5 linked regions of the Homo sapiens genome follow. The protein of the gene in region 2 purifies or fractionates together with the protein of the main gene of each other region. This does not show direct contact. Each region holds a gene or a part of one and is shown on either strand. Other genes may lie near its edges.

What was found.
Region 1: the proteins of DOLPP1 (region 2) and VSIG8 purify together in Homo sapiens (affinity purification with mass spectrometry; 3 studies listed by BioGRID and IntAct, with this or other methods). This does not show direct contact.
Region 3: the proteins of DOLPP1 (region 2) and LYG2 purify together in Homo sapiens (affinity purification with mass spectrometry; 3 studies listed by BioGRID and IntAct, with this or other methods). This does not show direct contact.
Region 4: the proteins of DOLPP1 (region 2) and ASS1 purify together in Homo sapiens (affinity purification with mass spectrometry, with the first as the bait; one large-scale study listed by BioGRID). This does not show direct contact.
Region 5: the proteins of DOLPP1 (region 2) and DSG4 purify together in Homo sapiens (affinity purification with mass spectrometry; one large-scale study listed by BioGRID and IntAct). This does not show direct contact.

Annotation. Positions count from the first base shown.
Region 1 is NC_000001.11:159,853,324-159,857,411, forward strand, and holds the end of VSIG8 (V-set and immunoglobulin domain-containing protein 8 precursor), read right to left. Parts: intron 3,321-4,088; coding exon 3,201-3,320; intron 2,838-3,200; exon of another isoform or gene 2,759-2,837; coding exon 2,560-2,758; exon of another isoform or gene 1,704-2,559; coding exon 1,430-1,703; 3' UTR 993-1,429; downstream 1-992.
Region 2 is NC_000009.12:129,087,001-129,091,581, reverse strand, and holds the end of DOLPP1 (dolichyldiphosphatase 1), read right to left. Parts: intron 2,612-4,581; coding exon 2,575-2,611; 3' UTR 1,144-2,574; downstream 1-1,143. UniProt on the Homo sapiens protein: Required for efficient N-glycosylation. Necessary for maintaining optimal levels of dolichol-linked oligosaccharides. Hydrolyzes dolichyl pyrophosphate at a very high rate and dolichyl monophosphate at a much lower rate. Does not act on phosphatidate.
Region 3 is NC_000002.12:99,248,436-99,253,102, reverse strand, and holds part of LYG2 (lysozyme g-like protein 2 precursor), read left to right. Parts: intron 1-4,667. UniProt on the Homo sapiens protein: May act as a potent antibacterial protein that may play a role in the innate immunity.
Region 4 is NC_000009.12:130,446,987-130,451,653, reverse strand, and holds part of ASS1 (argininosuccinate synthase), read right to left. Parts: intron 1,799-4,667; exon of another isoform or gene 1,699-1,798; intron 1,383-1,698; exon of another isoform or gene 1,321-1,382; intron 1-1,320. UniProt on the Homo sapiens protein: One of the enzymes of the urea cycle, the metabolic pathway transforming neurotoxic amonia produced by protein catabolism into inocuous urea in the liver of ureotelic animals.
Region 5 is NC_000018.10:31,400,118-31,404,784, reverse strand, and holds part of DSG4 (desmoglein-4 isoform 2 preproprotein), read right to left. Parts: intron 3,905-4,667; coding exon 3,765-3,904; intron 1,370-3,764; coding exon 1,151-1,369; intron 1-1,150.

The sequences.
Region 1 (4,088 bases), on a different chromosome or scaffold from region 2:
AAACAGTGCTTATTGATTTCCACTTTTGAACCAAAAATGACTAAAACATCCCCCAAAATACATTGTAAATATCATGACAAGGTGTTTAACAAAACAAGTGCTGGTAAATACTAAATAGCTCAATTAATCCCTATCTAGGAGTGGCTGACTACTTCAGGGTGTAAGAACGTGGAGCTGGATCTCAGAAAGGCCTAGATTCTCACCACAGAATATTCCATCATAAGGCAGTAACTGTAAAATATCTAAAAACTTTTTTTTTCTAGCATAAAGTAATGCTGCCACACTCATTCACTTGGTATTTCTCAAACATCTCCTGCAGAATGGGCTCTGCACAAGTTGACCAACTGCAGACAAATGAAAAAAAAAAAAGAACCACAAAAATAATTGTTCTAAAACACCAGCAGCATCTAGGTGAAGGGATTTACCATACTCTCCGAGTTCCATAATATATGCTATATAAATATTATTCCCCCTCCTTCCTGCACTTCACCCAGCACCCTAGAACTGTGGCACTTAGTTTTTTAATATAAGAGGTTGTAGTCTTATTTTCACATGTCCTTGTTTCTGTCTCACCGGATGCCTGTGCCTTCTGTGCTCCAAGGACTGGTTTCCTTTTAGCTTTCAGCAACATACAAAGACTCCCTAGACCTTCAGAGCACATTATTCTCAATAGAAAATCTTGACATGTGAAAACTTTGAATATTTAGAAATGGCAAGTGTATTGCACTTTGTCGGTTCCTCAGTTTATTTTACGGTCGTAGATATTCTGAGCTAATTCTTTTTGTCTTTGTTTTCCTTTTATCTGCACTTTGTATGTTGTTCAGAGGAGTTGCCCTGGATGGCCCCTTCCAGCTCTGACTGCCAGGGATCTAAGCAGGAGGGAGGAGAGGGGGCGTGGTCGAGGCGAGCGACAGAAGCAACCCTCCCCGGCCCTGGGCAGGGTTCGCCACCCCGTGCCCAACCTCCGTGGAACGCGGACAGCCACTTCGGACTCACGTCTCAATGTTTCTTTATTGTGCTAACACTGCTGCCTCAGAGCTCAGACCTCACACACAGAACAATTCGTCCAGACAGACCCCCACCCACCCGGCCCCCGGGGCCCTCTGCTTAGGCTGGGGACACCAGGCCTCCGGCCTCAGCCGCTCTAGGACACTCAGCCTCCTCCTCCCTCCCTCTCCCCCAAGCCTTCGGTCCCGGGGGTGCGGAGAAGGCTCAGGATCGCCTTCCTCCGCCCTCGCCCGCCCCTTCCCACTTTTGGGGAGGAGGCTCTGCCTCCCTACGCATTTCCTTAGGGAAATGCCTTCACCCCCAGCCGCCTGGCAGCCTGGGGCGAGCGAGGTCGTCCCCAGCCCCGACGTGTCCCCAGCTGCAGACAGAGAGCCCCGCGCCCTCCTCCTGGCTGGGGCGCAGCCCGGCCCGGCGCGCGCGCTCACACCAAGAGGCCGTTCTTGCACTGCACCGGCCCCTCGGCGCAGTCAGCCGGCTCCGCGCTCTTGACCTTGACGTAGACCGGGGAGGGGCCCGCTTCGCAGGCGGCGGCGGCGGTGCAGGGCGCCAGGGCCACGTCCTCGGGGCCGCCGCAGGGGGGAGGCGCGTACTTGCGGCGCAGGGAGCGGCTGACGTTCTGCGTCGGGTACCCCAGGAGGTGGGTGACGCGGCTGCCGCGCCCGCTGGCCTTGCACCCGGGCGCCACGGCGTCCTCTCTGTGGAAAACAACAGGCGGGCGGGTGAGCGGGCTGCTCCGCAGCGGGGCGTGGGCACGGCCTGGGCAGAGCCGGGGGCTCTTGGCAACCTCTTGTCTCCCGCGCCTCCCTCCACCTGCCCTCGTCTCTCTCCCTCGGCCTCGACCTACTGTCCTTTGTGACCCTTCCTGGGTCGGCGACCCTGCAGCGGTCCCGGAGCCAGCATCCCCATCCTCCAGACAGGGCTTGTCCACGCGTATCTGGAGAGCCCTGCAGGCAGCCCCCTCCAGGCCCCTGCAATCCCTTTCTGATGTTTCGCAGGCCCAGAAGAAGGTGCTTTTCCTCTTCTTCTTTCCTTAGCTAATCCTGACCTTGCTCGAGCAATCTCTCTCTTTCTCACCTCCTGCCCCTCAGTCTTCTCCATCTTTCCCTCCATCCCCGAGGCATTGCAATCATTAGCACTACTAGACTTGTTCTATTTTTATTTCTAGTTTGCTTCTAATATAAGTTATTAGCACTATTCTTATTATTAGCTCTTCTTAAATAATAATGTCAGAGTTCTTACCGGCGCAGTACAGGGGAAACGTGAAAAAACATAGGCCCTGCCCTCCAGGAGCTTACAGTCTAGACAAGACAGACAGGTGCGTAGGCAGGAGGGAAATGGAAGGCAGGGAGCAGAGGTGAAGACTGGGGTGGCAGGGGGAGGGGAAAGCCATGAGTTGGGTGGCAGGTCGACATGCCGCAGTCCCAGCACTCCGTGGCGATGGCGGGCAGGGTTGGGGTGGGGGGCCCAGCCGGCCGGTGGCAGGCAGGAGTGAGGTGGGCAGGGCGCCGGTTCCCTGCCGCACAGCAGCATGCAGCATGCATCAGGTTTTACCTGATCTCACTAGCCAAGTCGCCGCAGGCCCCTCCGCCGACCCCGCCGCCGTTGCCGTAGCCGAAGGCACCGCGGGCGCCGCCAGCCCCGGAGCCCCCGCAGCAGCAGCAGACGAGCCCCCAGATGCCTACGGCCAGGCAGCCCAGCGCGAGCAGAGAGCCCAGGACGATGCCGATGATCACGCCTATACGCCGGGAGTCTGTGGAGAGAAGTGGAGGCAGGTCAGGCTTTCTCACAGCCTGGCAGGTGCCTGAGGGAACAGCACCAGGAGGTGCCAGGTCAGGGGTTAATGGGAAAGAGGGAGAGGGACCCAGGGGGTCTCTTAGCCCTGGAACACCCAGTGGGGAAGATATGGGGAGATGCAAGTTAACCCCTCGTGTCAGCATGCTTCTCCCAGGGCTTCCAGCTGCTCTGGGCTCTAGAGCTCAGAGTGGAAGCTGTGCTGGGCGAGCTTGACCCAGCTCAATAGGGTCAAGATCGTACCCACTGATCTTGGCCCACTTGTAGGAAAGGGGCTGGGAGCCCCCACTGGCAAATGGATGGCAGTGGAAAGGCAGAAGCAGCTGAGGCTCCAAACCAGAGCCCAGCCTCCTCCAGTTCAACCCTCCCAACCACCCAGCCCTCAAGACTGCTGCACCTACCTGAGACCTTCACCTCCACCACACAAACACTGTAGCCCACGTTGTTGGCCACTGTGCACTGATACAGCCCATCATCTGCTCTGGAGATATCCTTCAACACCAGGTCCCCATTGTTCAGGCCTGAAAGTGAAGTGGAGAGAGGCCTGGTCTCTGAGAGCTCCCACCCCAACCTCAGTCCCTGTGGGGTGGGGGATGGGACACCCACTCTAGAAGAAGGGAAGGCTTATGCATGTGTGTACACCCACACCCACACACACACACACACACTCCACTCTCCAGGTGAGTCACCTTCCCCCTGCTGTGAAAGAGATGCAAGAAAGGACCTCTCTCCCAGCAGCAAGACAGGGACACCATTAATTCACTCTGACCTTAGGGAAATATGTACGCTCTCTGAGCCTTGGTCTCCTCCTTTGTACAGTGAGGACAGGAGAAGCCAGGGGAAGAGGAACTCTAAGGTCCCTCCTAGCTCTATTATTCTTTGTTTGACTGAATATTTTCAGCTTCTCTATGTACTAGGAGCTTTACACACCTCCCCCATTTAATCCTTGCATGCCCATGAAAGGTATATGTTAGTATTCCCTTTCCATATATGAAGAAATTAAGGCACAGGGAGGGTAAGCCACTTGCCTTAAACTTGGAGCCAGTCAGTGTCCCAGCCAGGATTCAAGCCCAGCTCTGTCTGAGACCAGGCTCCCTCCAAATTCGCCATAGTACTTTTGACTGACTCTCCACATTTGCCTTATCATCTGCTCTCAATAGCAGCTGCTGGGCCAGGCACGGTGGCTCACGCCTGTAATCCTAGCGCTTTGGGAGGCCAAGGCGGGCGGATCGCCTGAGGTCAGGAGTTTGAGACCAGCCTGGCTAACATGGTAAAACCCCGTTTCTACT
Region 2 (4,581 bases):
TCTGCCCATCTCTGGATTATGGGCGTGAGCCACCGTGCCTGGTGTTCTCTTTAAAAATAGTAAAACAGGCTGGGCGTGGTGGCTCATGCCATAATCCCAGCACTTTGGGAGGCCGAGATGGGTGGATCACTTGAGATCAGGAGTTAGAGATCAGCCTGGCCTACATGACGAAACCCCATCTCTATTAAAAATACAAAAAAAATTAGCCAGGGGAGGCTGAGGCAGGAGAGTTGCTTGAACCCAGGAGGCGGAGGTTGCAGCAAGCTGAGATCGCGCCACTGCACTCCAGCCTGGGTGACAGAGCAAGACTCCATCTCAAAAAAAAAATAGTAAAGCAGTCTGCTTAATCATTCCAGTATTTGAAGAATTTGTGGGTTTGTTTCTATTATCTGTTTTCTGCTGCTGCTCCATCATGGTGTCTTTTTTCCTTTTATATTTGATCATCTTTGTCCACATATATTTGTTTTTGAGATGGGGTTTTTCTCAGGCTGGAGTGCAGTGGTGTGATCACAGTTGGCTGCAGCCTTGACTCCCGGGCTCAAGCGATCGTCCCACCTCAGCCCCTCGAGTAGCTAGGACCACAGGTGTGCACCACCACGCCTAGCTCATTTTTAAAAAAATATTTTGTAGAGACAGGGTCTTGCTACGTTGCCCAGGCTGGTCTCAAACTCCTGGGCTCAAATGATCCTCCTCCTTTGGCCTCCCAAAGTGCTGAAATTACAGGCGTGAGCCACTGTGTCAGACCAAGTGGAGATGTTTATCCTGGCACACTCTGAAGGGCACACTGGCTGCCCCTGAGTCCTCAAGGCTGTCCCACAGAGGAGGAACAAGGCTCAGTGAGAGGAGGGCCAGCGCCACACAGGGAGGGAGACTGACAGTGAAAAGAGGAAAACTTCCTAAGGCTGAGAGTGTCCAGGTTTGGTATGGTGGCCCTCAGTGAGGTCCCCTGGAGGGATGTAATCAGAAGCTGGACAGACCCTGACAGGAAATGCCGCAGAGGTCATTCAGACCCCTGCTGTGGGCTAGAAGGGACTAGATCACTTCTGGTTTTATGGTCTTCACCGTATCCTTGCCCCTAAGGGTCATGTGTCCCCACAGCTGCCCCAATCTCCTCTCCTGAGCTCAATCAGCAAGTGCTCAAGCTGCCAGAGTTTACGGTTTTATTTTAAAACAGTAGTAAACAATTTCATTGATTTTTCTTAAATCAAACCACCTCATACTCGGCTTGTCTCAGGCAAAAAGTAAAAAATAAAAATAACGGGAGGGAAACATGGAAACCGACCTACCTTCCCTAGAAATAAGCCCCTGGTCTTGGCATCTGGAATGGCTTTTGGACACTGCCTTTAACAAATGAGAAAAGAAAGCACCAAAACATTGTGCTTCAGCAGCAGGTTAGGAAACTCCACAAAGAAAGGGGTGGGGAGGATTCGAACACAGATCCCGAGTGACCCAGTTCAGTCCTCAAAACTTCTGAGAGTCTGGAGGCGTCTCCTCTCCACAACTCCCTTTCAGAGTGACTTAGAGATGGGGGTCCCTTTAGGAAGAGCCCTCCCACGAACCAGGCTGATAGGGATCTGTGAGCCCACACCCCAGACACAGGTTTGAGGGGGACCCCAAGCAGGTTCCCAGCTGGTCAGAGATGGGTCAGGAAGGACAAGGACATATTCAGAGCACACAGAGGGAAGGACGAGGGACTTCGGGTGCCTGTTGCCTCACTCCTCTCCTCACGGCTCCTTCCCATTTTGTTCACGTGGGGATGAAGACTAACTGCTACTGGATGGCAGGACAAGAAAGAGCTGTAAACAGCTTGGGTCTGCTCACCCAAATGTGCAGGCTCCTTTGTCAGAAAGCGATTATTGTCTTAGGGACAGGGGACCAGAGAAAGCCCTTGTGGTGTTGGGTCAGTACGGGGTAGAACACAACGACAGCAGCCGCCAGACGCGTGCTCGCTCTGGGCCCTGCCCCCAGACAGGGAAACACTGACCGAGGTTCTGGAACGGCAACGGTGGCAGGGAGGGTGTGGGGTATGCTCCCCTCCTCCTGGCACCCAGGCCACCCCGGCCCAGGGAGAGGCAGTCTGCCCTCTGGGCATAGGGCGAAGGGCCTGGGAAGCTGACCGGGAGCCCTCTGTTCACAGGGCAGCCACCGGAGAGCAGATTCTTCCAGCTCCAAAATCCTGCCTGCCTCTGACAAAACCAAAAAATAAATAGTGTGTACTTCTCACGCCACCTGGAATTCCTGGCCCCGAGACCAGAGGCGCGAGCCCTCCTCCTCCACCCCACACCCAGGTGCCCATGCCGAGGGCACTTTCTGCCCAGCCAGGGGCTGGCAGCAGCACAGCGAGGGTCTCTGGCCACGGCCCCCAGGCAGCAGGCCCCCCAGGGTCCTGGTTGAGGGGCTGGTTCAGCCCTTTGGTCCACCTTGTTCATTAAAATTAAAATAAGAAAAAAAAAGGCTCCACTTGGTGACTTGGGTCTGTAGAGGTCTCTGCTTCGTCCCTGTCTGTCATCCTGTCCATCCTGCAAGGCATCGTGCGGGCCAGATCTGGAGGCTGGACCCAGCCACACCCACTGGTCACTGCAGTTTCGTCCCCAGCTTGCGTTGTCTGTTCCTGCAAAACAGGATGGGGGTCAGATGTGGAGACATCTGGTGTTCAGTGACCTACAGCTGTCCCCACCCCACCCGTAGTCCCAACTAAGTAGGCAAATGCCCACACCCAGTAGCCAGCGATTGACCTGAACTGGGCCAATCAGAGCACCTGCCCTGGGAATGGCACCTAGACAGGGCTGATCTCCCCGGCGAGGCCTGTACCTCAGTTATCTCAGCTCTGCAATCCCAGAAGTGGAGCCAGGGGATTGGAGCAGGGGTAGGGACCAGGATGAGACTACAGAGGCAAGAGGGACCTGGCTGGGTTCCAATTAGTTATGGGGAGTTTCGCTTTATAGACGAGGCAGCACAAGTGGGCTCAGTTGTTATTGATCAAAACAGAAGTACAGAAATGTAGTGAGCTCCCCATCCGGGAGGTATGCAAGCGAAAGCAGGAGAACTACTGATGGAGGTTACTGAGGGGATTTGAGCACCCAATTTGGGCTGTGGCTATATCCAGAGTGAGCCCAGGAACCTGAGGGAACCAGGGCCAATCACCCCCATTTTCTAGAGGGGCTGACAGAGACTCAGTAGAGGAGAATGGGGTTTGTCTAGGGTCCCAGTTAAAATCTAGAAACCTGACTGGTCCTGTGTGATCTGTCCCCAGCCTCATCCCACAACACACCCCTTGCTCCCTGGGCTCCAGCCCCGGCAGCCTCCGTCTGGTGCAGTCACCAAGCTTTGTCAGCTTCAGGAGTTGTGCATGCCCTTCCCTCTGCTGAGAACGTTTCCCCCAACCCCCACAACACCCTCCCACCCCCCTACCCTCCCCATCCCCCCATCCCCCCCCACCTCCCCCCACCCCCAGCTCCCACGTCCCCACATAGGCTCCCGACACAAGCTGTCAGGCCACAGCACTGATCACATAGGCAGGTGCGTCGCAGCTCTTCCCTGCCTGCCGTGAACACAGTGAGCAGGGGACCATGGCTGTCACTGTGCTTGCCCCCAGCACACAGCCTGGCACAGAACAGGTGTGCCCTGAGATTTTGGTAAATGAAGGCAGGTGGAGGCCGGCCAGGCGGGGCAGGGCAGGGTGAGGCGGGGCAGGCCAGTGAGAGATCAGCGGGGCCAGCTGGGACCTTTCTGCCTCTAATAGGATTGCCTGCCCTAACCCCCTCCAATCCCCTTTCCTCATGGATCCCCGGCTTTGCCCTTAAGCTCGTTAGGATAATTTGGACCTTGATGCACTAAACACGTTTCCTGGCTGCTAGGACGCCCCACCCTACCCCGCCCCACAGTCCCTCTCAGCCTGCCTAGAAACCTCCCAGGCTTCCTGTGGAGCCTCAGCTCCCCTCTGAACCCAGAGAAGGGCCGGCCTTCGGCCGGGCGAGGTGGCTCACACCTGTAATCCCAGCACTTTGGAAGGCCGAGGCGGGTGGATCACAAAGTCAGGAGATTGAGACCATCCTGGCTAACACGGTGAAACCCCGTCTCTACTAAAAAATACAAAAAATTAGCCGGGCGTGGTGGCGGGCGCCTGTAGTCCCAGCTACTCGGGAGGCTGAGGCAGGAGAATGGTGTGAACAAGGGAGGCAGAGGTTGCAGTGAGCCGAGATCGCGCCACTGCACTCCAGCCTGGGCGACAGAGCGAGACTCCGTCTCAAAAAAAAAAAAAAAGAAAAAAAAGAAAAGCCAGCCTTCCCACTCCCCTAAGAACCTCACCCAGGATTTGGGGTGAATGAAACAGCATGAGTCAGGAGTCTCCAAAGCTCAGCTCTGTCCTGACTTGCTGCACAACTACAGGCTGGCCTCCTAACTCAATGTGCCTCAGTTTACCCAGGCCTAAGAAAGCATCTGGACTAATCCCTAGGGATGTCCACACACAGGAGCCCTGAGAACCTCAGCTGCCCAGCTCTCTGGTTCTGGGCTGCAGAGGTTAAAAGCATGGGCCCTGGGCCAGACAGCCTGGGTTCACCACCCTGCTCCCCCACCCAC
Region 3 (4,667 bases), on a different chromosome or scaffold from region 2:
GTAGATCTGGTGTGAAAAGCCCAGTGATAAGCCTTTTTTTTTTTTTTTTTTTTTGAGACAGAGTCTTGCTCTGTCGCCCAGGCTGGAGAGTGCAGTGGTGCGATCTCAGCTCACTGCAAGCTCTGCCTCCTGGGTTCATACCATTCTTCTGCCTCAGCCTCCCAAGTAGCTGGGACTACAGGCGCCCACCATCATGCCCAGCTAATTTTTTTGTATTTTTAGTAGAGACAGGGTTTCACTGTGTTACCCAGGATGGTCTTGATCTCCTGACCTCGTGATCCGTCCGCCTTGGCCTCCCAAAGTGCTGGGATTATAGGTGTGAGCCACCACGCCCGGCCCAGTGATAAGCATTTTTAATAAGCTTCCTGGGTAACTTTGATGCCTGTGGTCTGTGGGCCACACAGTGAGCCTGGCAAAGACTGCCTCCCAGTGAAAGGATACTGAACCTGTCAATATAAGGACACTTGATCCAGATAATTTAAACAATCCCTTTCTGTCTCATTCCTTCATCCATCCAACTATCCATTCTTCCATTCAGCAAATGTTTATTAAATGTCTACTTTGTGCCAAGCATTGTTCCAGGTGCTGAGGAGGATATAGCAGAGAAAAACATCTAGTATCTGACCTAATGAAATTTATCTTCTAGTGAGAGGAACGAACAGTAAGAGAGTGAGAGGAAAAAGGGAAGAGAGAGGGAAAGAGTGAGAGGAAGGGAGGGAGATAAAAACATTTCACCTGTAAAAATTTTTGGGCTGGGCACGGTGGCTCACACCTGTAATCCCTGCACTTTGGGAGGCCGAGGCAGGCGGATCAAGAGGTCAGGAGATTGAGACCATCCTGGCTAACACAGTGATACACCATCTCTACTAAAAATACAAAAAATTAGCCAGGTGTGGTGGCAGGCACCTGTAGTCCCAGCTACTTGGGAGGCTGAGGCAGGAGAATGGCATGAACTTGGGAGGCGGAGCTTGCAGTGAGATAAAAACATTTCACCTGTAAAAATTTTTGGGCTGGGCACGGTGGCTCACACCTGTAATCCCTGCACTTTGGGAGGCCGAGGCAGGCGGATCAAGAGGTCAGGAGATTGAGACCATCCTGGCTAACACAGTGATACACCATCTCTACTAAAAATACAAAAAATTAGCCAGGTGTGGTGGCAGGCACCTGTAGTCCCAGCTACTTGGGAGGCTGAGGCAGGAGAATGGCCACTGCACTCCAGCCTGGGCGACAGAGTGAGACTCCATCTGGAAAAAAAAATTTTTTTTTTTAATGTGTCTCTAACATATAAGGACCAGCTCTGGCACAAAAAGATGTTCCTGGTTCATCTTGAACATTTCCTGCCCCAGGCAGGCAATCAGCCATTATTCTGAGGAGCGCTGGTTCCACTTAGCAGGAAATGGTATTTAGAGACCACAGTGTGGGAAGTAAAAGTGCTCCATTGCTATGGAGCTGTCGTTTATTTCAGGTGTTTTCAGTGGCAGGAACTAGAAAATATATATTTTTAAAAGGAAAACAACTATGCATTCAGATATTTCACATTTATATTTAAGAATGCAAGCATTTTACATCAGTTTTATATTTGTACCTCTGCTATCTTACACTAAAAATCCTAGTTCTAATGACATTAGCATTATTACTTATTTACATACAATAGTGTCAAAATAAGTATGACAGTATTACCAACCAACAATGAGACAGTAAATATAATTTAAGATTTTCTTGTGATTATTTATGTTCACAGGATGGATTCCTATGTAGTGGTATAGACTTATATGGATATATTTTAAAGTCACTTAAGATAATTCTCCTCTATGTGTTTATTAATCTTTCAATTTGTTATAGAGTTATGTTCATTTGTTCTTCTTTTTTATGATTCCATTTTTCCCCATTTGATTTAATTTTAAAATTTATGATAACATTTACATGGTTCCAAAATAAAAACTTTAAAAAAGATAGTTAGTCTATCCCCTATCCCTGTTCCCTTTACCTTCCTCTTACTCTCTCCATAACTAACAATTTTTATCAGTTTTTCATTCATCCTTGTATTGTTTCTTTTGAAAATATGAGCAAATCACACAAAATATACGATTGTATTTTCTTACCTTTCTTACACAAAGAGTACAATTCTATAAATACTATTTTGTCCCTGGAGAGAATTTTACAGGAGTATATACAGGTCTTATTCTTTCCTTTTGCAGCTGCATAGTGCTCCACTGTGGACGTAGCATCACTTACTCAACCAGTCCCTAAATTAATGACATTTGTGTTGTTTGCAGTCCTTTGCTCTTATCAACAGTGCTGGAATGAACAGCCTATCACAAAACTGTGTTCCACAGCAATGTGTGTGACAGCCTATTTCCTCACAACCTCTCCCACAGAGGGTATTGCCAAACCTTTGGGCTCTTGCCAACTAAAGAGTTGGAAAATGCAGCCAGGCGTGGTGGCTCACGCCTGTAATCCCAGCACTTTGGGAGGCCAAGGTGGGCGGATCACAAGGTCAGCAGATCGAGACCATCCTGGCTAACATGCTGAAACCCCGCCTCTACTAAAAATACAAAAAATTAGCCGGGTGTGATGGCAGGCGCCTGTAGTCCCAGCTGCTGGGGAGGCTGAGGCAGGAGAATGGCATGAACCCAGGAGGCGGAGCTTGCAGTGAGCCATGATCGCACCACTGTACTGCAGCCTGGGCGACAGAGCAAGACTCTGTCTCAAAAAAAAAAAAAAAAAAAGAGTTGGAAAATGCTGTTATAATGATGTTTTAATGTGGCCTTTCTCTTCTTTTGAGTGTGGTTTAACGTCTTTTATATGTTTAAGGACTATTTTCTTTTTTTGTCTATAAACTCGCTATATATTCTGCTGATAAGGTGATATTTGGACAGAGACCTGAAGGCATGATCATGTAGATACCAGGAGGAATAGCATTCTAGGCAAAAGGGACCACAAACATACAGGCTTTGAGGCAGAAACCTGCCTGGCATGTTGAAGGATAAGCACAAAGAAGAATGTGGCTGGAGGAGAGTGAACAAAGGGAAAGAGAAGTAGGAACAGGAGCAGAGGGCCACATCTAGTAGGTCTTGGAGGCTGCAGGATGGACTTGGCTATTCCCCTAAAGGAGGAGAAAGCCACTGGAAGGTTAAGAGAGAAGACTGATAGCAGCCCATGCATATTCCCACAGGGCCACTCCGTCTACTAAGTAGAGGATGGGCTGCAAGAGTGAATCAGGGAGGTCAGTTAGAAGGCTGTTAGGAGAGTCCAGATGAGCAATGATGCTGGCTGGGACTATGGCAGAAGCAGAGGTGGGAGAAGTGGTTAGATTCTTTTTTTTTTTTTTTTTTTTTTTTGAGACAGAGTTTCGCTCTTTTTGCCCAGGCTGGAGTGCAATGGCGCGATCTCGGCTCACTGCATCCTCCTCCTCCTGGGTTCAAGCGATTCTTCTGCCTCAGCCTCCCGAGTAGCTGGGATTACAGGCATGCACCACCATGCCTGGCTAATTTTGTATTTTTAGTAGAGATGGGTTTCTCCGTGTTGGTCAGACTGGTCTTGAACTCCCGACCTCAGGTGATCCGCCTGCCTTGGCCTCCCAAAGTGCTGGGATTACAGGTGTGAGCCACCACGCCCAACCAGATTCTATTTTTTTTACATCAAACATTTTAACAAAATCCTTTTTTTTTTTTTTGAGATTTGAGACAGGGTCTTGTTCTGTTGCCCAGGCTGGAGTGCAGTGGCACCATCAAAGCTCACTGCAGCCTCGACCTCCCGGGTTCAATCAATCTTCCTGTCTCAGTCTCCCATGCAACTGGGACTACAGGCATGTGCCACTACACCAGGCTAATTTTTGTATTTTTTGTAGAAATGAGTTTTGCCATGTTGCATAGGCTGGTCTCAAACTCCTACGCTCAAGCAATCGTCCTGCCTCAGCCTCTCAAAGTGCTGGGATTCTAGGCATAAGCCACAACATCCAGCCCTAAGTACTGTCTTATAACAAATATTTGGACTCTTAAGGTACAAGTTAACAGTCCTTGAAACCGTTAGAACAAACTTTTCAACATTACAGAAAATAACTTTGTATCTCCTTTAGCAAAAGCTCTGCCTCTCCTGTAACAGGTAGACTTGGACAGAAATTCACTTTTTAATGACAGAACAAAAAGACAAGAATAGATTTGACTTAAATTATTTTGGCAAATTCAATTTTTACTTCTAATTTTATTAAATATACATAGGAACTCAACTTCACAGTAAATGATATATAATAAGAATATATTTAAATTGTTATGGTGCCCTTCTTTCTTATCTTTCTAAACAAAGGCAAATTGGTTTTTTTTGAATTTTATTTATTTATTTTTATTTTATTTTATTTTATTTTATTATTATTATACTTTAAGTTTTAGGGTACATGTGCACAATGTGCAGGTTAGTTACATATGTATACATGTGCCATGCTGGTGTGCTGCACCCATTAACTCGTCATTTAGCATTAGGTATATCTCCTAATGCTATCCCTCCCCCCTCCCTCCACCCCACAACAGTCCCCAGAGTGTGATGTTCCCCTTCCTGTGTCCATGTGTTCTCATTGTTCAATTCCCACCTATGAGTGAGAACATGTGGTGTTTGGTTTTTTGTCCTTGGTGATAGTTTACTGAGAATGATGATTTCCAATTTCATCCATG
Region 4 (4,667 bases), 1.4 Mb from region 2:
CACAGAGGGCACAAGAATCTGTGCTTCCCCAGCACGCAGTGCCGCCGCCCACCTGCAGGTGGAGAAGGATGCTGTGGGGCAGGGGCCCAGCCCCAGTCCCTCTCCTACCTGCAACCCCATGGAACCTTCACTGGCTGGAATTTTAGACATCGTGTCTCCAAATGTGAGCGCCTCTGAATTCAACTCTGCCAATGCCCAGTTTGGAGGGGCTCAGAGACCAACTTCCCCCAGTGTGGAGGTAGAGAAACTGAGGCCCAGGGAGGGAAGGCGATAGACAGGCAGAGGCCTAAGACCTCTGCAACCAGCGGCCCTTCCCGGGGGGACAGATGGGCACGAGGGCTCTCTGCAGCCAGGCCCTCTGCAGCCGGGAAGTGCCTGCGGTCTCCCATCCTGCCCCACCCTCCGTCACAATGAAGCCTCCCGAAGGCGCCAAGGCCTCCTGTCTCCTGATCTTTGCAGCCATGCTTCTTCCCCGAGGGCTCTCCCTGAATCCTGGGCTGCCCTTGGGCTCGCCCTGCACCCCCCTCCCCCACATGCCTCCTGTGGCCCTGGGCTTGGGCGTCTTCACTGTGTCCAATTTGCTGAACAGGAAACCAGGGTTAGGGAGACGAGGTCACCTGCCCAGGGTCATCGGATCAACAAGCAGCAGGGGCAGATGTGGGCCCAGGCCTCCTGGTTCCAGCCTCCGTGGACACCTGGCCCCAGCATCCCGCATTTCCCAAATGTACAGGGCATGTTTGTTCTGCCTGGGAACGTTTCCACTGGAGTCTGACCAACGTCACAAGGTCAGAGTCACCCAGGGTCTTTATTAGACACTACTGGGGAAGTGGAGCCCAGAAGGGTCACCCGGCCATCACCATTGCAGTGATGCAGGCATCGCTATCCTGAGCACTCTCTGTGTGCCTGGAAGCTCGGGGAGAGGAAGTGCCTTTCCCAGGCCTCCCGTCCTCTGCTGCAGAGCCTGGCCGTGTAGCCAGGTGGACTTTGGAGCTCCGTCACATGAGAATTCAGTCCCGTGCATGCTGCACGGTCCCACCTGCCAGTCAGCCGGGGCTCACAGGCCTGTGCTGCCCTTTGGACTTAGAAGGGGAAACACCTCATGGACCATGCAGCTGGGGCAGAGAAGATGGTTCTGGTCGGTGCCCACAACGTCCCTACTGGGCATTCAACCCCCTGCCCCTGAGTTGCTGGTGACTCAGCCAGCCCTAACCCTGGAGCCAGCAGGTGGTATCCATGGCAACTGCAGCCAGGCAATTGGCCATGCAGGATGGAGGGAAGGAGGGAGGAAGGCAGGCAGGGAGGACTTAAGGTGGGCAGTACCTGGGATTGGAGGCGTGAGTTCCCGGCGTCTGGAATCTGTTTTCACAGTGCAGTGAACCACTCTGCAAAAGCAGAGCTACTCAGCTGCCTGCAGGTAGCCTGGGCCATCCCAGAGGCCCTAAACCTTACTTTCCAGCCGCCCAATCTCCTGTGAGCAGCCTCACTGAGCAGAGGAGGTCCAGGAGCCCCAGAGCCACCTGTCCTGCCTCCTGCCTCCTGCCCCCTGCTCCAGAAGGCATTCAGGAAATATGTGGAAGCCTACCCCTGTTTGCGTGTGATGGCGCGGGTGGTGTGGTTGGGTTGCGGGAAATTCTGTTGTATGTTTTAAAACAGCTCTATTGAGGTCTACTTGACATATCATAAATTGCATTTTTTAAATATCAGATGGGTAATGTGCCAACATCATAACAAAGTTTGAGGGTGGCACCTCACACACACACGAGAATACCCAATCAGCACATTCATCAACTACAAAAATAATCGCATATTTTTTTGTGTCCAATTTAGCAAGTTTCGGCGTGCGGATGCGCCCGTGACATCAACACCACAATCAAGGGAATAGACATGTCCGTCTTAGGCTAAGCCCTTCCATCTGGGGTTCTCTTCATTTTAGAGTCAGGAAAACTGAGGCTTGGGCTGAGGAACTTGCCCTGCATCTCGTTTGACTGGTAGGCAGCAGAGCCAGGACTCCAACTCAGATCAGCTCGGCTCCTTAACCCCCTGCTCATAGGTACAAGACCACCACTGGAGACTCAAGGAAGGGAAGTCCTGGGCAAGTGTGATCTGATGATGCTGGCCCAAGATTCACCCAGCTCTGAGAGTCACCCCTGCTCCTGCCTCCTCCCAGAGGCACCTGGAGCCAAGAGAGGCAGCTCCACAGAAACACGGAGGGGCAGCTCCACAGAAACAGCTGGATCACCTGCATCGCCTCAGTGACCCGCCATGCCTCCTGCCCATCAGAGCTGTATCCTTTTTTTTTTTTTTTTTTTTTCAGACAGGGTCTCATTCTGTCACCTAGGCTGGAGTGCAGTGATGCAATCTCAGCTCACCACAGCCTCCACCTCTTGGGCTCAAGGGATCCTCCCATCCCAGCTCAGTGCCACCACCCCCAAGTAGCTGGGACTACAGGCACATGCCACCACACCTGCCTAATTTTTGTATTTTTTGTAGAGATGGGGTTTCACTACATTGCCCAGGCTGGACTCGAACTCCTGGACTTAAGCGATCTGCCTGCCTCAGCCTCTCAAAGTGCTGGGATTCCAGGCATGGGCCACTACATCCGGCCATCATGCTGTATTCTAACTGCCCTCTCCCCCACTATGAGCTCCATGGAAACAGGGACCATCTCCCAGATGCCTGTGGCAGGCACTTAGAACAATGCTACTAGTTCCACTCTCTGGAGGTCAGCTCCTCACCGCAAAAAGAGGGCTGGGGTGCCCTGAAGCTGTGGAGTCCTACACATGCTCTCATGGCCGAGCACAGTGGTTCATGCCTGTAATCCCAGCACTTTGGACGGCCGAGGTGGGTGGATCACTTGAGGTCAGGAGTTCCAGACCAGCCTGGCCAACGTGGCAAAACCCCGTCTCTACTAAAAATACAAAAATTAGCTGAGTGTGGCGGCACACACCTGTAGTCCCAGCTACTTGGGAGGCTGAGGCACGAGAATCGCTTGAACCTGGGAGGTAAAGGTTGCAGTGAGCCAAGATCGTGCCACCACACTCCAGCCTGGGTGACAGAGTGAAACTCTGTCTTAAATAAACCAAAAGAAACCAGTGAGCCCCTCCTGCCTGCCAGGTTGTAGCTGGGCAGGTGTGGGCTCTGAGGCCTTCAGCCTCTGGGGCTGGGCAGTGTGAAGCAATGCATGGACCTGGCGTGTGTACCTGAGACAGTGTGTGTGTGTGTGTGTGTGTGCGCGCGCACACACCTGTGTGCACCCAGGGGTGCGTACCTGAGAGTACACAATGTGTGTGCATGCATGTGTGTGATGTGTTTGGGCTTGCACATGTGTGCCTGTGTGCATGCACACGTGTGTGGGTGTTGGGGCCAGTGTATGCATGCAGAGAAATGAGCTGGGCAGATGGGCTTGGGAAAATGATGCAATCAGACAGCAGCGTTGCTCCTGCCCTCCCAGCAGCGGGTGGGGCACCCCCCTCCCTCAGCCTCCGCAGGTCCCTAAGCTGCATTTGCAGCCCGAGGCAAAAACTAAATGAAACTGAGGGTTTGATGTCGGGGGAGGAAGTGACAGGGAGAGAAGGAACCACAGCTGCAATCCAGTGAGCGCTCACTCCAGGCACAGGACAGAGGTCAAGTCCACCAGACATGGGTTTGAGTGGCTTCAGCTCTCTAGCATAACTGCTCAGCTGCAAAATAGGGGTGCAAACAGCCTGCTCCCCACAGGGCGACTGTAAGGATTGGGTGAGATGCTGGGGGAAGGAGCCCAGAGCTGGGCACCAAGCATGTATGTGCCCACTAAGCTCTGTGCACCGCTGCTATGGCTGACCTCAGCCAAGTTCCTGGCTTGCTAAGCCTCAATTTCCTCATCTGTACAACCTGACAGCCCTCTGGGTTCTGACCCTCCCAGACATTGGGCTTTCTTCCTGGGAGCTGCGCCTGGCAGGCAGATCCTGGCTGAATTCAGCCTCCCCTAGTCCCAGCTCCACCCCCACCACATCCCCCAGAAAGGGCCACGGCAGGTTTCTCCAGCTCCCTGGCAAATGCCCACTGCCCTCCAGCCCTCCTTCCCCGGAAGAGACACCTGGGAGGAGGGAAGGTGGCCTCGCGTCAAGGTACCAGAGCCACCTGGCTTTCATTGGGATGGCATTCTCTGTGGCCCCAGCCACAGCCATCTGTCCAGCTTCCAGCAAACAGGCCAGCCTGGGCGCTCACTTGACACTAAGGAAAACTCGTGCTACTTGAAAACGTCAGAGCTGGAATGACAACAAGAGCGGCTACTATGTTCACAGTCACAGGTGCATCCTCTCAAGGTGGAGACTGCCATTACCACCTATTTACAAAGGAGGAGGCAGAGGCTAAGCGGCCAGCCGAGGTCACAAGCTAGCGGCTTCAAACCCAGCCTGACTGCAGGCCACTTGCTCTTCCCTGCACTAGGCCTTCCACTCCCTGGCTCCTAGGAGACCTCAGATCTCCCCTTCACTCTACACACCTTCCAGAAAACCAGCCCCCCAGTGAGTCATGGCCAACCTGCCCACTATTTCTCTGGAGAGCCTGTGTGCTATAGCTCAGGCCTACTGCCCCGTGGAAGATTCCCCTGCAACCCCTCGCTGACATTCTAACTCAGCTGAGCTCGGTTTGTCTTTGGTGATGGACGAAGGGCACATTCATTCATT
Region 5 (4,667 bases), on a different chromosome or scaffold from region 2:
GTGAATTCAGAGTTGACTTGATATTAATGGAATTGCTTTAACATGATTAACTTTAAAAAATATTAAAGTGGTTTTGTTGAAAAGAGCTAAAGGTTTGATGGTAAAAACAAATTGCCTAATTTCTTACTTTATTGGTGGTATTTTCCCCACCTTATTTTAGGGTTTCTCCATTCTGTAAATAGAGGGGCTTGGTGACCTTAAAGAGGTGGGAAGTATTTCCTCTCACCCTGGGCTCTGTAGTCTGATGGCCACCGACTAGCCCATGAAATTTTCCCTGTAGCCCCAAATGAATATGAGATTGGGGAGCTATCTTAGCCCATATGAGATCCTCTCATAGCATTTTCTTTTTTATTATGCACTTAACGTTTTAGGAAAAAGAACGCAAGGTAGATAAAATGTTATGTTATCTGAAATTTATTCTTAATTTTTATCGATGTCAGCCATTCAATTGTATGTAGTTATAGTCAAGATACATACATATACAACTTCGTGATCTGTTTTTCACTTTACTTTCTTTGGTTTATGCATTCTTTTGTATCTACATACTTTGCATAATTCTAATTTTAATGGCTGTATATTAACACATCTTAATAATATGTACTCTGTTTAATCATTCCTCTAATACTGAGCAATTTGGATTTAAATTTTTACCCTTAAAAATAAGTCTGAACTCATAGTTACTGTAAAAAACAATTTAATTGATTTTATGTGCTCCTAAGTGAGTAGTAAATGTTTAAATGTATCTATGGGATATATGAGTTTCAGAGACATTTATGTGATTTGTCTGAATTTATTCAGAATAGGGAATTGTGACATTCTTAATTTATGAGTTTGTTAAGGGTTCTGTTTATTTTAAACTGAATAAATATTGGTTCAACGTTTTACCTACTCAAAATGATGGGTAAACTGGTATTTATCCACTACTATTTGTAAATTAAATATTAATGAAACATTTTGACTCATTTCATTTCAGTTCAAAATTTTATCAAATATCCTCTGTGTACATGAAATATTTTTTTCATTTAATGTTAATATGGCAAGAACTGTGGAAACAGAAGTAGAATGTTTTATTAAGTGACTTGCCACATTTTTTGGTAATTGTTTTGCTTTTGGACTTAAAGTCCAAAAAACAAGCTTACGTTTCACTTACCATTTGTTGATCTGACATCCCACATGTCAGCTATTCCTGGTGGCTCATCAACAACACAGAAAGTAAACGGAGACCCATAAGAATGTTCATTAACAGAGATAAGGACTGATGGAGAGTCAATGCAGATGGTTCTTCTTTCAGGAAAAATGTTTGGACAATAATCATTGATATCAGGAACCTCAATACATATGGTTCCTGTAGCTGTTTTTCCAGAGCCATCTGAAAGAGTAAGGGTCATTGGTGTTGAGGTAAATGGTGTTAGGGAGAAAACTCTTTCTCATATCCCCTGATGATGCCATGGAACTTGTAGGAAACATATACGTGACTTGGGAGGCTTGACAGGTTCCTGCCCGCTTCAGTGACCCAAAGTCACTCTTCCCTTTGTGTGCTACCTTCCAGCCACACTGCTTCTTTTGAGTTCTTTAAACAAGTTTCTTTTTTACTCTGGACTCTGGCACATTCTTTTCACCCTTCCTAAAATGTTTTCCACCCTCATTTCATTTTGCTAATTCTGACACATCCTAAGGCGCAAAATCAAATGTTCTTCCTCCGAGAAGGTTTACTGGTTTCTAATCTCACCCTGTTCCCATAAATTAGACCCCCAGGTCAGTTATGAACCTCCATTCAGGATGCTCACTGAGTCCTGTGTTTGTAGAAATAACCACAGCTGAAATAAATACTTGTTTGTGTTTTTCTTGTGTGCTCACTGTTTATTTTAATTGCATCTGTTACATGCTATTTCTTTCTGAAATGGCATTTCTGAAAACAAATATAAGTCTATTAGATTTTTCCCTAATCCACTTGAAACAAGTTTTTGGATAGTATAATTAATCAGAAAGGGCCAAAGACTAAAGATTAGGAGTCCAGGAGCTTTTTAGTCCACTTTTCTACTCTATGTTCTGTTACAGCGAATACGGAATTTTTTTTGCTTCTTTTTAACTTGAAAAGAATCTTAGCTTTCTCGCTTTTAAACTAGAACGTTGTCGTCTCTGGGGTACCTTACTAGGTCCTTTTCTGAGAAAGCAATAAATTCCTTTTACAGATGTTTTCTGTGTGCCTAAGTAGTAGTCATTGAGGTAACTGAATGAGAATAAACTGAGAGCCTACCTATAGTCTATATGATTTTGTATAATATGTTTATATACCCTATTCAGCATTGGACTTGTTTTTACTAGATGAAGGATGTCGATTTCACTTAGCTTCTCATTCGAGAGGCATCAGATTATTCCACAGATTGTTTTATTTGTCATTCTTTGATCTTTGGTAGCTCTTCTATTACCTTGTGATTGGCAACCAAAGCTCAAGCTATTGCTTATAGTGTTTGCTTCCCAGTAAAGTTTGCTCTGCATAGAGGTCTGTCTCTTCACCTGATGATGGTGTGTGCTGAAGCAAACTTATTCCAACCATTCAGATAGCTCTGTGCCAGTGCAGACACTCTGCTTAGGTGAATAAACAATCAGCTTTGTTTCTGGGTTTCTCTTGGTACATTTTGACAGCACTTTCTCTCTCTTTATTTGCTTGGAATGACTAATTATTTATTCTAGCATTTGAAGATTTTTCACATATGACCAATATGCAAACATAGGGTGCAATCAACATGGTTAGAATCCATTTTCAAATTAGAGCTTCCAGAATACTGATAATGAATAAGACAATGTTATTTATAAAACTGACCCAGGCGTTAAAATTTACCCGCCACAGGATGAAGCCCAGGATGTACAGATGATAGTTGGTTTGGTTTTATCATGGTTTCTTTTTGAATTTTATGCTGCTTCTTTATCTTTATTTTTGTTTTGATACTGGAAAGGTCAGCTATAAACTCAATGCAAACCTACAGTATCTGTCTTACATTAGGCATGTATCTTGGACGCCTGTCTTTCCCCTTCCTTCGTGGTTCCTGACCTTTGTCTCTTGTTTGGTTCTACAGCAGCTGGTTTCCTAGGCACTGCTTCATAGAATCATTAACTATTGATAAATAAACAAATCCTGTTGCTGCTCACCAAGAGGACTGCTTAACAGATTTACCCATGTGAGAGGTGGCTCGCTTACAAGTTAAGTCAGTGCATCTGTATTTATGACTTTTAATATGGATCTTATATTTGGAATAATCTGTGCTTTCTTGGTCCATAGCATCTTACTATGGAAATATGTCTAATCAAGCAACACTCACACAAGCTTCTCACTGTAGTTCAGTTTTAATGGATCTAAAATAATTGTATTCTTGGAGACATTGCTTTCCCACAAGGTGATCCCCAAATGAACTTTGTAGAGCACGTAGCCCTTACTTTAAGTAAACATTCCCAACATACCCTACAAGTGAGATTAGCCATACTCAAGAGACAAAGTCATAATCAGAAGATGAATTATATTTTAACTTTTATGCTGTAAGCCATATACAACTCAGTTTTGGAAGTAGATGAAATAAACTATGGCTTCAGTGTAAATTATGATTTTAATTGACTTCAATTCTTGATTTAAGGTGTTTAGGGCTTTCCATAAGTCTTGCATACACCATTAAAAATGTCTGAGTCACTCAAATATCAGCATTAGAATAACATAATATTTAATATAATAGTACTAGTTTTCTTAAAATACTGAAAATAAATTTTCTTACCATCTATAGCCAGGATCTCTGCTGTGTATATCCCATTGATAATATATTTTGACTTCTTATCAAATTCTCTAGAAAATTGTATCTCACCAGTTCTTGAATCAATTTTTAACCAGCTGCCTGCATCATGCCCTATGATATATCTGTTTTTAAATAAAAAAGTTCGTTATCATGCTTTTATGAAAGTTAGTACTTTTAAATCATGTAACAGCTACAATGTGGCAAACTTTAATATTGTGTTTTTATGTTTTATAGTGATGATTGCCTTGGTTTATAAAAAGTACATATATATCAATAAAAATTCAATGATATATACATTAATATACAGGTCTGCAAGTTTTAAAATTTCATCATTTTTACTCTTCTGGCTCCTAGGATAATTGTTAATAAAATGTATGAGTTTATTTCAGCTCTATTTATTAAATCATAGCAATGTAAAACATCCTTTATTCATTTTCAGAAACACATATTGCTTATTTATTTTTGTATGTGGTATACTTAGGATTTTTTTTGTGGCTTTTCAGCTATGTTGATTTCAGAGCACCTCACTGATAGCCTGTTGGGGGCTTGTGATATCCTCTGTTCAGTGTGACTATCTGGATCTTGTTACAGATGATAGATTTAAAGTGCTTGACCTCACTGGAAGAAGATCTGGTCTCTACCAGGCACAATTTCAAGTCTTCAGTTCCTTTATCTGAACTGCTTTTACCTCCACCCATCCTGGCAGACTTCACAGGTTTTTTTGCGTCTGTCAATTTGTTAACTGATTTAATAACTAAAACTGTGAACATCAAGGTAACTTATAAGTCAGTAGACTTCGTTTACTCTAAGAATATTGGAAGAAGAAAAGGAGATAGAGAAGGGCAGGATATAGAGAAGATCTGTGTACTTCACTGTGGTTATTTC